Regions from separate parts of the Homo sapiens genome. Here region 1 is linked to region 2. The links come from fine-mapping of genetic effects on gene expression. A gene starts in region 2. The other region holds a variant in brackets. All regions are shown on one strand. Distances are between the middles of the regions.

What was found. PIP is the estimated chance that this variant, and not a neighbour inherited with it, causes the effect.
Region 1: its variant is fine-mapped to the expression of ZBTB34 in whole blood (INTERVAL, PIP 0.94).

The regions. Positions count from the first base shown.
Region 1 is chr9:126,907,466-126,912,623 of GRCh38, reverse strand. No RefSeq gene overlaps it. Among named protein-coding and RNA genes, the nearest start is that of RALGPS1, 4.7 kb to the left of the region's middle. The variant A/T (reference allele first, on the strand shown) is at 2,808.
Region 2 is chr9:126,858,521-126,863,520 of GRCh38, reverse strand. ZBTB34 (zinc finger and BTB domain containing 34) reads right to left here and starts at 2,882. Exons shown (of 2, transcript NM_001099270.4): 1 at 2,782-2,882. RefSeq lists silencers at 2,364-2,583, 2,694-2,743, 2,754-2,833, 2,864-3,263 and an enhancer at 1,942-2,739.

The DNA of each region.
Region 1 (5,158 bases), 49 kb before region 2:
GCATCTATACTTTTATTATGCTTATGCATACTTTCTAAGTTTTTTCAATGAACACAGATTCTTTTGTGATATATTAGAAGTTATTATAAACCCAATTTTAAAATGAGGAAAGGTCATTTAATATTGATTCTTGATGCTTCCAGAAGGATGTATTCATTCTTTCTACAAATATCTAATGGTTCTCTGCTATGCGCCAAGTGCTACTGTAAATGCTGAGAAAACAGCAGTGAATAAAAGAGACAAAAATTCTTGTCCTCGTGGAGTTGACATTCTAGTGGGGTAAGGCAGCTATTAAAATCAATATTTACAGTAGTAGGCTAGATAGAGAAAAGTGCTATGGGAGTAAAATGAAGCAAGGAAGAAGGGAGTTCAACGTTAAAGAAGACAGAAAAGTTTAGATGGTGATAAGCGAGAAATAATAGGTTTCTTAAAGCAATAAAGCCAAGTGCAGTCTGAGAAAGAGAGAGAGAGAGAAGGATCTGAATAGACATTTCTCCAAAGAAGATACACAGTGGTCAATAAGCACATGAAAAAGTGCTCAATATCATTAGCCATTAGGAAAATGCAAATCAAAACCACAATGAGATACCACTTCACACCCATTAGGATGGCTACAACAAATAAGATAGACAATAACAAGTGTTGATGAGAAGGTGAAGAGAATAGAACCCTTGGCTGGGCGTGGTGGCTCACGCCTGTCTCCCAAGGTGGGTGGATCACCTGCGGTCAGGAGTTCAAGACCAGCCTGGCCAACATGGTGAAACCCCATCTCTACTAAAAATACAAAAAAATTAGCTGGGTGTGGTGGCAAGTGGCTATAATCCCAGCTGAGGCAAGAAAATCACTCGAACCTGGGAAGTGGAGGTTGCAGTGAGCTGAGATGGCGCCATTGCACTCCAGTCTGGAGGACAAGAGTGAAACTCCCTCTCAAAAAAAAAAAAAAAAAGAGAGAGAGAGAATGGAACCCTTATACACTGCTGGTGGAAATATAAAATGGTACAACCACTTTAGAAAACATAGAGTTAGCATATGACTCAATCACTCCACTCCTACTTACCACCCAAGAAGAAATGGACACAACATGTCTGCACAAAAACTTGTAGACAGGTGTTCACGGCAGCATCATTCACAATATCAAAAAATGTGAATAACCCAAATGTCTATCAAGTGATGAATAGATAAATAAAATATGGTTTGTCTATACAAGGAAATGAAGTACTGATGCATGCTACGACATGGATGAAACTTAAAAACATGCTAAGCGAAAGAAGCTAGACCACGTATTATATGATCCCTTTTATATGAAATGTCCGTAATAAGCAAATCTATAGAGATGGAGGGTAGACAAAGTGGCTGTCTAAGGCTGAAGGAGAGGAGGATTTAGGGGCAACAACTTAGGAGTTTCTTTGGAAGAGGATGAAAGTGTTCTAAAATTAATTGTGGTGATGGTTGTAAAACTCTGAATATACTAAAAGCCATTGAATTATACTCTCGCTCTTTTTTTTTCTTTTTTTCTCTTTCTTTTTCTTTTCTTTCTTTTTTTTTTTTTTTTTTAACAGTCTCACTCTGTTGTGCAGGCTGGAGTGCAGTGGCACGATCTCAGCTCACTGCAGCTTCTGCCTCCTGGGTTCGAGCAATTCTCCTGCCTCAGCCTCCTGAGTAGCTGGGACTGCAGGTGTATGCCACCACACCTGGCTAATTTCTGTATTTTTGTAGAGACAGGGTTTCGCCTTGTTGGCAGTCTGGTTCTGAACTCCTGACCTCAAGTGATCTGCCCGCCTCGGCCTCCCAAAATGCTGGGATTACAGGCATGAGCCACCATGTCTGGCCGAATTATACTCTCTAAGTGGGTTAATTATATCTCAATAAAGCTTTTTTTTTTTTTTTTTTTTGAGACGGAGTCTCATTCTGTTGCCCAGGCTGGAGTGAGGTGGCACAATCTCGGCTCACTGCAACCTCCGCCTCCCGGGTTCAAGTGATTCTCCTGCCTCAGCCTCCCAAGTAGCTGGGACTATAGGTGGGTGCCACCACACCCGGCTAATGTTTTGTATTTTTAGTAGAGACAGGGCCAGGGTGGTCTCGATCTCCTGACCTCATGATCCGCCCGACTCGGCCTCCTAAAGTACTGGGATTATAGGTGTGAGCTACCACACCTGGCCAATAAAGCTATTTTTTAAAGTTATTGTTGGCCAGGCGCAGTGGCTCACACCTGTAATTCCAGCACTTTGGGAGGCCAAAGCAGGCAGATCAACTGAGGTCAGAAGTTTGAAACCAGCCTGCCCAACATGGCAAAACCCCGTCTCTACTAAAAATACAAAAATTAGCTAGGTACAGTGATACATGCCTGTAGTCCCAGCTACTTGGGAGGCTGAGGCAGGAGAATCACTTGAACCCAGGAGGTGGAGGCTGCAGTGAGCCAAGATCACACACCACTGCACTCCAGCCTGGGCAATACAGTGAGACTCCATCTCAAAAAATAAATAAATAAATAAAATGAAGTTATTGTAAAGTCTGGTCAATCCCATCATTCCCATGCTTAAATATGTGTAACAGGATGTGGAGAGGATCTTAGCTGTGCCCACTAGAGTTCACTGTCAAAGTGTGATGTGCTGGTGAAATGGGCACATTCTTAGTATCTGATGTGTTTGAGTCACTCTCCATGAGGGAAAGGAACTTTTGAGCCACAGGAGGAAAGGAGGATTGGAGAAATCACCAAGGGTCAAGCCTCAACCCGGCTGTCTTTGCACAAACTTATACTTCATGGAGAGCCAAACTTGGGAAGGTTCAAGGAGTTGTTCTCATTAGAG[A/T]TGCTGACCCATAAGGAAGGTGTGACAGACAGACTCTAAGGTGTCCCCATAATGCCCACCTCATTATGTCCCTGCCCTTGTGTGGGCAGGACCTGACTTGCTCCTAGCCAATAGAATGAGCCAAAGGCTTTAGGAGGTATGTGATTGCATTACAGAAAACTGTAACCCATCTTGCTAGGAGACTCTCTTGCTGGCCTTGAAGATCTAAGCCACCATGGTGTGAGCTGCCCTATAGAGAAGACCACGCAGCAAGGAACGGAGGGCAGGCTCCAGCCAACAGCCAGCAGGAAACTGGGGGGGCCTTTGGCCGAGCACGGTGGCTCACACCTGTAATCCCAGCACTTTGGGAGCCCGAGGCGGGCAGATCATGAGGTCAGAAGTTCGAGACCAGCCTGACCAACATGGTGAAACCCCATCTCTACTAAAAATACAAAAATAAGCCGGGCATTGTGGCACACACCTGTAATCCCAGCTACTCAGGAGGCTGAGTTAAGAGAATCACTCGAACTCAGGAGGCAGAGGTTGCAGTGAGCCGAGATTGTGCCACTGCACTCCAGCCTAGGCGACCCAGTGAGACTCCGTCTCAAAAAAAAAGAAAGAAAGAAAGAAAGAAAGAAAGAAAGAAAGAAAGAAAGAAACAATGAATCTGGGGCCCTCAGCCCAGCAGCCTGAAAGGAACAGAATGCTGCCAATAATCACATGAGCTCAGAAGCAGATCCTTCAACTGTTGAGCCTCAGATGTGACTGCAGCCACAGCCAACACCTTGATTATAGCCTGTGAGACTCTGAAGAAGAGGGCCTAGCAAAGCTGTCCCTAACCTATAGAAACATTGAGATAATAAATGTGTGTTATTTTAAGCTGCCACATTTGGGATAAAATTGTTACACAGCAAAAGATAACTAATACAGGCCATAACCCACTCTTTTCTGTTGCCTAAGAGGTAGCTCCTGCTCAGAGGCCATCAACACCCAGGTGTTATAAGGATTCTGGAATAAAGTATCCTCCAGATCCTGGTGGCTGGTATCTCTGGGGGCATCAGAAGACAGAAAATAGGGCGCAGGAAAGAGCACTGTCATTAGGGACACAGGTGCTTTTCCTGTGCACACAGGTACAATGGTGAGGTGCCACCAAGGGGCGTCAGGGAAAGCAGGCATCACTATGGGAAGCAGGAAGGAGGTGGAAGAATAGGGACTGAGAGTGAAATTTTGAATTTGGTCAGTTCTAGGAAACGATCTTGGCTTTTCCATTCCCATCTATGTGGCCTTGGACAAGTGTCCAAAGCTCTTTATGCCTCGGTTTTCTCATTTCTGAGAAGATAATATCCAGAGTACCTATCTTACAGGGTGCTCCTGAGGAAAAGTGAGTTAATCCTATAGTGACCATGAGTATGCACCTGGCAGACTTCCAACTATAGGGAGGTTATTTGACCAAGGGCTCAGCTTCTGCACTCTGAAATCCATCAAAGCATTGGCACCAAAGCCATGTTACCCATGGGCTGCACCCAATGACTGACCATGGCAGGAATACTAAGGCAGGCCTGGCCCCGGGTGACAATGGGAGTCCTCTGGTGATAGATAATCTTTGGCTCAAAGACAGCCCGACAGCCTTGCTGACGCTTTGTTGGACTGTGTGGCAGTATGGGATGCTTCCACACACTCCCTTCCCTCTCTCCTTTACTTGAGGTCAGACTTGATTCACAGTCTGCTGGCTCTCTCAACCCATTTCCCCCTGATAAAATCCTTGCACGTTTTTTTGTTTTTTTGAGACAGAGTCTCACTCTGTCTCCCCGACTAGAGTGCAGTGGTGCGATCTCAGCTCACTCAACCTCCGCCTCCCGGGTTCAAGCGATTCTCCTGCCTCTGCCTCCTGAGTAGCTGGGACTACAGGCGTGCACTGCCACGCCCGGCTAATTTTTGTATTTTTAGTAAAGACGGGGTTTCCCCATATTGGCCAGGCTGGTCTCGAACTCCTGACCTCGTGATCTGCCCGCCTTGGCTTCCCAAAGTGCTGGAATTACAGGCGTGAGCCACCACACTCAGCCAATCCTTGCATGTTTAATTCTGTTATGGCACCTGCTCCTTAGTGAACCTGGACAGACGCAAGAAGCCCCAGGAATAGGCAGTGAAAATAGGTGGTGAGATGTGGATTTGGGATGATTCACCCACTGCTCAATAGGCAAAGAGAATACCCTCCTGCTGGAGCACAGATAGTCCCTGGAACAAGGTGGTGGCTCACATGCTAAAGATTTCACTGACAGCAACCTGGGAAAAGACCCCCATGGAGGAGAATGCTGTGCTGGGCACATATTTTCCAGAGTCTGAAAAATATGGGGAGAACAATGTGGACAAAG
Region 2 (5,000 bases):
GAACATTAACGGGAATAAAACGTAACTAGATTCATGGTACTGACATTTTAGACAAGTGCTTCAAATGGAAGGCAAAAGTGGGGGGACACAGCGGTGCAGAAATCCAAAACTCAGTAGGTACACAGTTCAGCAGCTTATCATTTCTCCACCTTGATAAATGTACACCCAATAATGACAATAACAATAATGAAAATGTACTAAGCAGTTACTAGGTGCTGCACATTTTTCTACTTCGTTCCATTTTCGTTTACAGTTCATTGGATTTTATTATCCTCCACACTGCAAATAAGAAACGGAGGCTCAGAGGCATTAGATAAATTGCTCAACTTCACAGAGCTGGTAAGCAGACTTGCTAGGATTCAAACCCAGGTCTCTGATTCCAAAGCTGCTGTTCTTTCCCCACAGCCTCCGAATGAAGAATCACATGACTTTTACCTTTTCCCATGATCAGAGGGAAACGTTTCAAAGTTTCAAAGATTCGTTTTGTGCTTTCTGCACCCTAAGAGAGCAAGCTGAAAACATCCACCTTGAATGGTAGCATTACATATCACTTATCTATGACACAGAAAGCTGATAAAAACAGATTCTCCTTAAAAAAAAAAAAAGGCAAATTACAAAACAAAACAAAAAGTTGTTTACCAACAAAAATCAGGAAGTATTTGAGTACCTATTATAGAAGTCCAGCCCCAGTATTAGATACTATAAGGTCTCCGAGAGGAGTATTAAGACACAATGCCCTTAAAAAAACTCCCACTCCAGTTGGGACAAGAACAAGTTCAACAGCCAAGGAACAAGTGCTGAATCCGAGTGCCACAAAGCCATGGGGGCAGGGAAGTCAGGGAACACCCTCTGGAGGAAGTATATCTGCAGCAGGGGCTTGAAGGAAGTGAAATGGAGAATTTGCACAGAAAAGAAAAAGGAGGCCAGTGCTTCAGAAGGGGGAACAACAGAAGCAAAACCCAAGAAGCCGTAACTAACTCAGTTCTGCAGGGGACAGACTTGGAGAAGCAGAGAATAAGGTTCAGGTAGGTGGGGTGGGGCCAAACCACGGAGAGTCTTGAAAAGACAGGGTGGGCGGTGGCTGGACATACCGTGGCAGGCAAGAGGCCACTACTCAGCTTTGAACAGTGGTATAACTGCCGTGGCCTCTTAACTGATCTCCTGGCCTCTAGCTTCTTCACCAATGCCTTCAGTAGTTTCAACTTTGACCTAGTGTTTGAGTTGAGGAACTAGCCGCGGCCCACCTCTCCTCCTACTTCCCTCCTATATGAACCCTTCTCTGCCAGGAGACTGGTCTATTCACTAACTCCATAGGATCACTGGGCCTGATTCCTCTTTTCCTATCTGAATGCTACTCATCCTTTAACACCCGGCTCAAATCCCGCCCCTCACTAAACCCTCCCTAACCACTCGGCCTACAGTGACCTCCATCTCTCCTTCTTAATTCTACAGCACACAGCCTTGTCTCATCAAAATTACCTTTTCATAAGTAATGTCTCAGCACCCTGTGTAAAGCTGCCTGGAGACTGTAAGTGTGCCTTCTACTACTTTCCCACCACATGGAACAGCATCTTGCCATTTAATAAGCAAGCAAGCACTCAACTATTTTTTGACTTCCTATAGTAAGTTTGGCTTTAGCATAAAGGAAGGATGGGGGAGGGGGGAACCTCTGGAGTCAGCGACCAGCTTAGAAGCTGTTGCAATAATCCAGATGTGAAGCAAAGAGGGCCTGGACTAGGGAACAAAGAGAAAATGGGCAAATATAAACAACAAAAAATTCTGCATGCAAAAACTCGGCGGAATGTGATTAACTACTACTAGGGACAAAAGCAAGGGATGAATGAGGATTAAGGTGAGGTTTAGAAAACGCTTCTTGAAATCATTTTAAAGCCTGTCTGAAACAAAATGCAGTAAGTGGCTTAAAAAGTCCACACTGACAAAGTCTTCAGCGAAACTGCCCAGTATCTTGAATCAGGGACAGCCCTTCCAATTTGAGACATACACGGAATGGCAGAGCCAGAAGGGTTCTTAGAGAGTTAAATGAAACCCTCAATGATCACATGGGGAAACTGAGTCCTAGCATGGAAGGGGCTTGCGGAAGGCCTCAAGACAGAGACTCCCAGACGAGTGCCGCCCTGAAAGCACAGCCACTTGGCCTAGAAGGGCACTGTTTACAACCCCGGTCAGCCCCAGCCCAGCCCTCCGCAATGGCAGGACCAACTGAGCGCGAGTGGCCACGGAGACGTCTGGGGCCAAGCGCAACCCGTCGCCGCCGCCTGTTTACCTGGAGGAAGGCGGTGGCGTGAGGCAGCGGCTCCGTGGCAGCCACCCGAAGGGCCGACCCCTGGCCCGGCCGGCTCTCCAGGGAACTCAACCATCTGCCCTCCCTCCCCGTACAAAAGGGAGCGCCCCCAGGGCTAGGGGCCCGGAAGCTGGGGATCCCGAGACGCCCCGGGCGGAGGCTGGGAGCCCAGGGCAGCTGCCCGAGCGCGACCCTCAGCCGGGCCAGCGGCGCCGGGACTCCAGGACCGAGCACAGCTGGCCCCTCGGGGACGCGCGCCTGACCCCAGCAGGTGCCCGGGGCCTCCGGACCCCGCCCGGCCTCGGCTCCCGCCCGCGCCGGCCGCCTGCCCGCGGGACTGACCAGGCGCGGAGGCTCCCGCCCCGCCGCGCCCAGAGGGAGCCGGACAGCGGCCCGGGGACTGCCCCCCGCCCCGCCTGCCCCGCCTGCCCCGCCCGCGCCTAGCCCGCTGCTCGCCGCCCCCGGCCAGCGTGCCTCACCTGTCCAGAGCGCCGCGCTCACATCGCCCGCCCGCGGCGCCCCCTCCGCCGCCGCCGGCGCCAGGCCAGTCCCCGCCGCTCCGGCTGCCGCCCCAGCCCGCGCCCCCCGCCCCCGGAAGCGCTTCCCGGCCCCGCCCCCTGGACGCCCGCGCTTCCGGGCAGGCGCCAACCCGGGTGGTGGCGTTGCGCGGCGGACCTCTAGCCAGGGCCCGGGGTCCTGAGTCCCGCCCGGTTGTCGTCCCAGAGCCTCGCCGCGGGCTAGCGGCAGCCTTGGTCTGGACCCCGGAGTCCCGACTCCGGGAAGCGGCGTCGGCTCTGCCTTCAGCCCGCGCTCTCCTCGGCGCCCCCTGCTGGCGGGAGAAGGGCGGTGCAGTGGGGCGCGTTTCAGGGGCTCCCGGAATCGAACGGGTGGGAGAGAGCCCAGGACCCTCGACCCCCCCAGCACTGGGGGGCCTGCCCCCAGCCCAGCCCTCCCTTCCAAGACCCTCCCTCCTGCATCTCTTCAGGCGCATGCCACGCACCCGAGCTGCTCCTGGCAGGGCAGCTGAAGGCAGCAAGGTGCAGTGGTTAGCAGCAGGGCTCTGGGGACCTGTCATAGGGGGTCTCTTGACTTACCACCTTGGGCAGGTTTTCTCTCTCTCAAAACGGAGGTGGCTCCCGCCTGTAATCCCAGCACTTTGGGAGGGCGAGGCGGGAGGATCACTTGATCCTAGGAGTTTGAGACCAGCCTGGGCAACATAGGGAGGCCCCATTTAAATTTTTAAAACTTAGCCAGGCTTGGTGGCACATGCCTGTAGTTCCAGCTATTGGGGAGGCTGAGGTGGGAGGGTCGCTTGAGTCCGGGAGGTCGAGGCTGCGATGAGCCATGATCGTGTCACTGTACTTCAGCAGTGGTGAAAGAGCAAGACCCTGTCTCAAAAACAAAACGGAGGTGAAAATTCCCAACTCACTGTTATAAAACCCATGTCACAGAGCATGCCTCAAAAAATGTGCATTTCCAGACCCTTGGGGACACCCCAGTCTTCAAACCGTTGGGTGGGAGTGGGAGCCTCACCCAGCGTTTTCCTCCCAGCATTAGACCAATGTAACACTCTTTGAAGAGCTTCCCTTTGCATTTTGGTGGAGTCAGTAGTTGTGGCAGAGGTTTATTTTCCTTTTTCTGGCTTTGTAATAAAAATAAACTAGGAGGCAAAGATACCAGCTCCTCTTCAGGATAGAAAGCTGCTGAGACTTCCTGATGTTACTTCATCCTTTGCAAGCAGGAACTGTCTCTCCAGGATCTGTCCAGTGGTCATCCTCCAATAGCAACAGCTACCCTTTGTCAAACACTCCATGCAGGGCACTGTGTAGACACTTGACAGCCATGACCTCATTTAACACAACCTAAGGAGGTGGCGATCTATTCCCATTTTAATCCAAGAGGGAACTGAGGCTCAGAGAGGTTGAGTGACTTATCCAAAGTCACACAGCTAGTAAATGGCAGACTTGGGATGAACTCCCTTGTCTCTCTGACTTCTTATAGCAACAGAACATCCAAGCATAGGATTTTAGGCAACCTGCCTATAACTGCAGGCACCTGGGCAGACAGGTAGTCTCGCTCTTGAATTGCTATTGCACTTGAGTTGTTTTCTTGAGATCTGTCCCCAAGGGTGAGATACGTGTGCACCCAGGGCACAGGAATACATCATCTTGTCAGGTTTCCTCCGGACTGCTGAGCTGATTCTTATGCCCAGAGGTTTTCCTACAGATCAGCCTTGGGCCTCATCATTTTAACTGATTTTTGCTAAATTCGTTGATAAGAGTTAGGGTCTTCTTGGCTGTGACACAATATTTGCATATCATTAAGTACTATAAAGACTAAAATAGTTCCTGAGTTTTTGACCCTCCTCTGCCAAGTGTCTCAAAGTTGTTGGCCCTCTGTCTGTCCATTGGATGCTGGGTATTTCCCTCATAGTTTATATTTACTCTCCCACCTAACTGGGTCACCAAACTCATCATTTATATATTTTTCCAGCCCCTTGCTTTTTTCGTTCTTGTTGTTTAGCTGATTGTCATGGTCTCTACTAATTTTAGTTAAAAAACTGTCACTCCTCCACAGTTGAGGTGCATATGTGTTTCTGTTTTCCCATAATCTTTGTGGCAGTTTTAAATGATTTAACTCGTTAGCTCCCTTGAAATCAAGAAGTCTAGGGAGTGATGTACAAGTCTCATTTTAATTT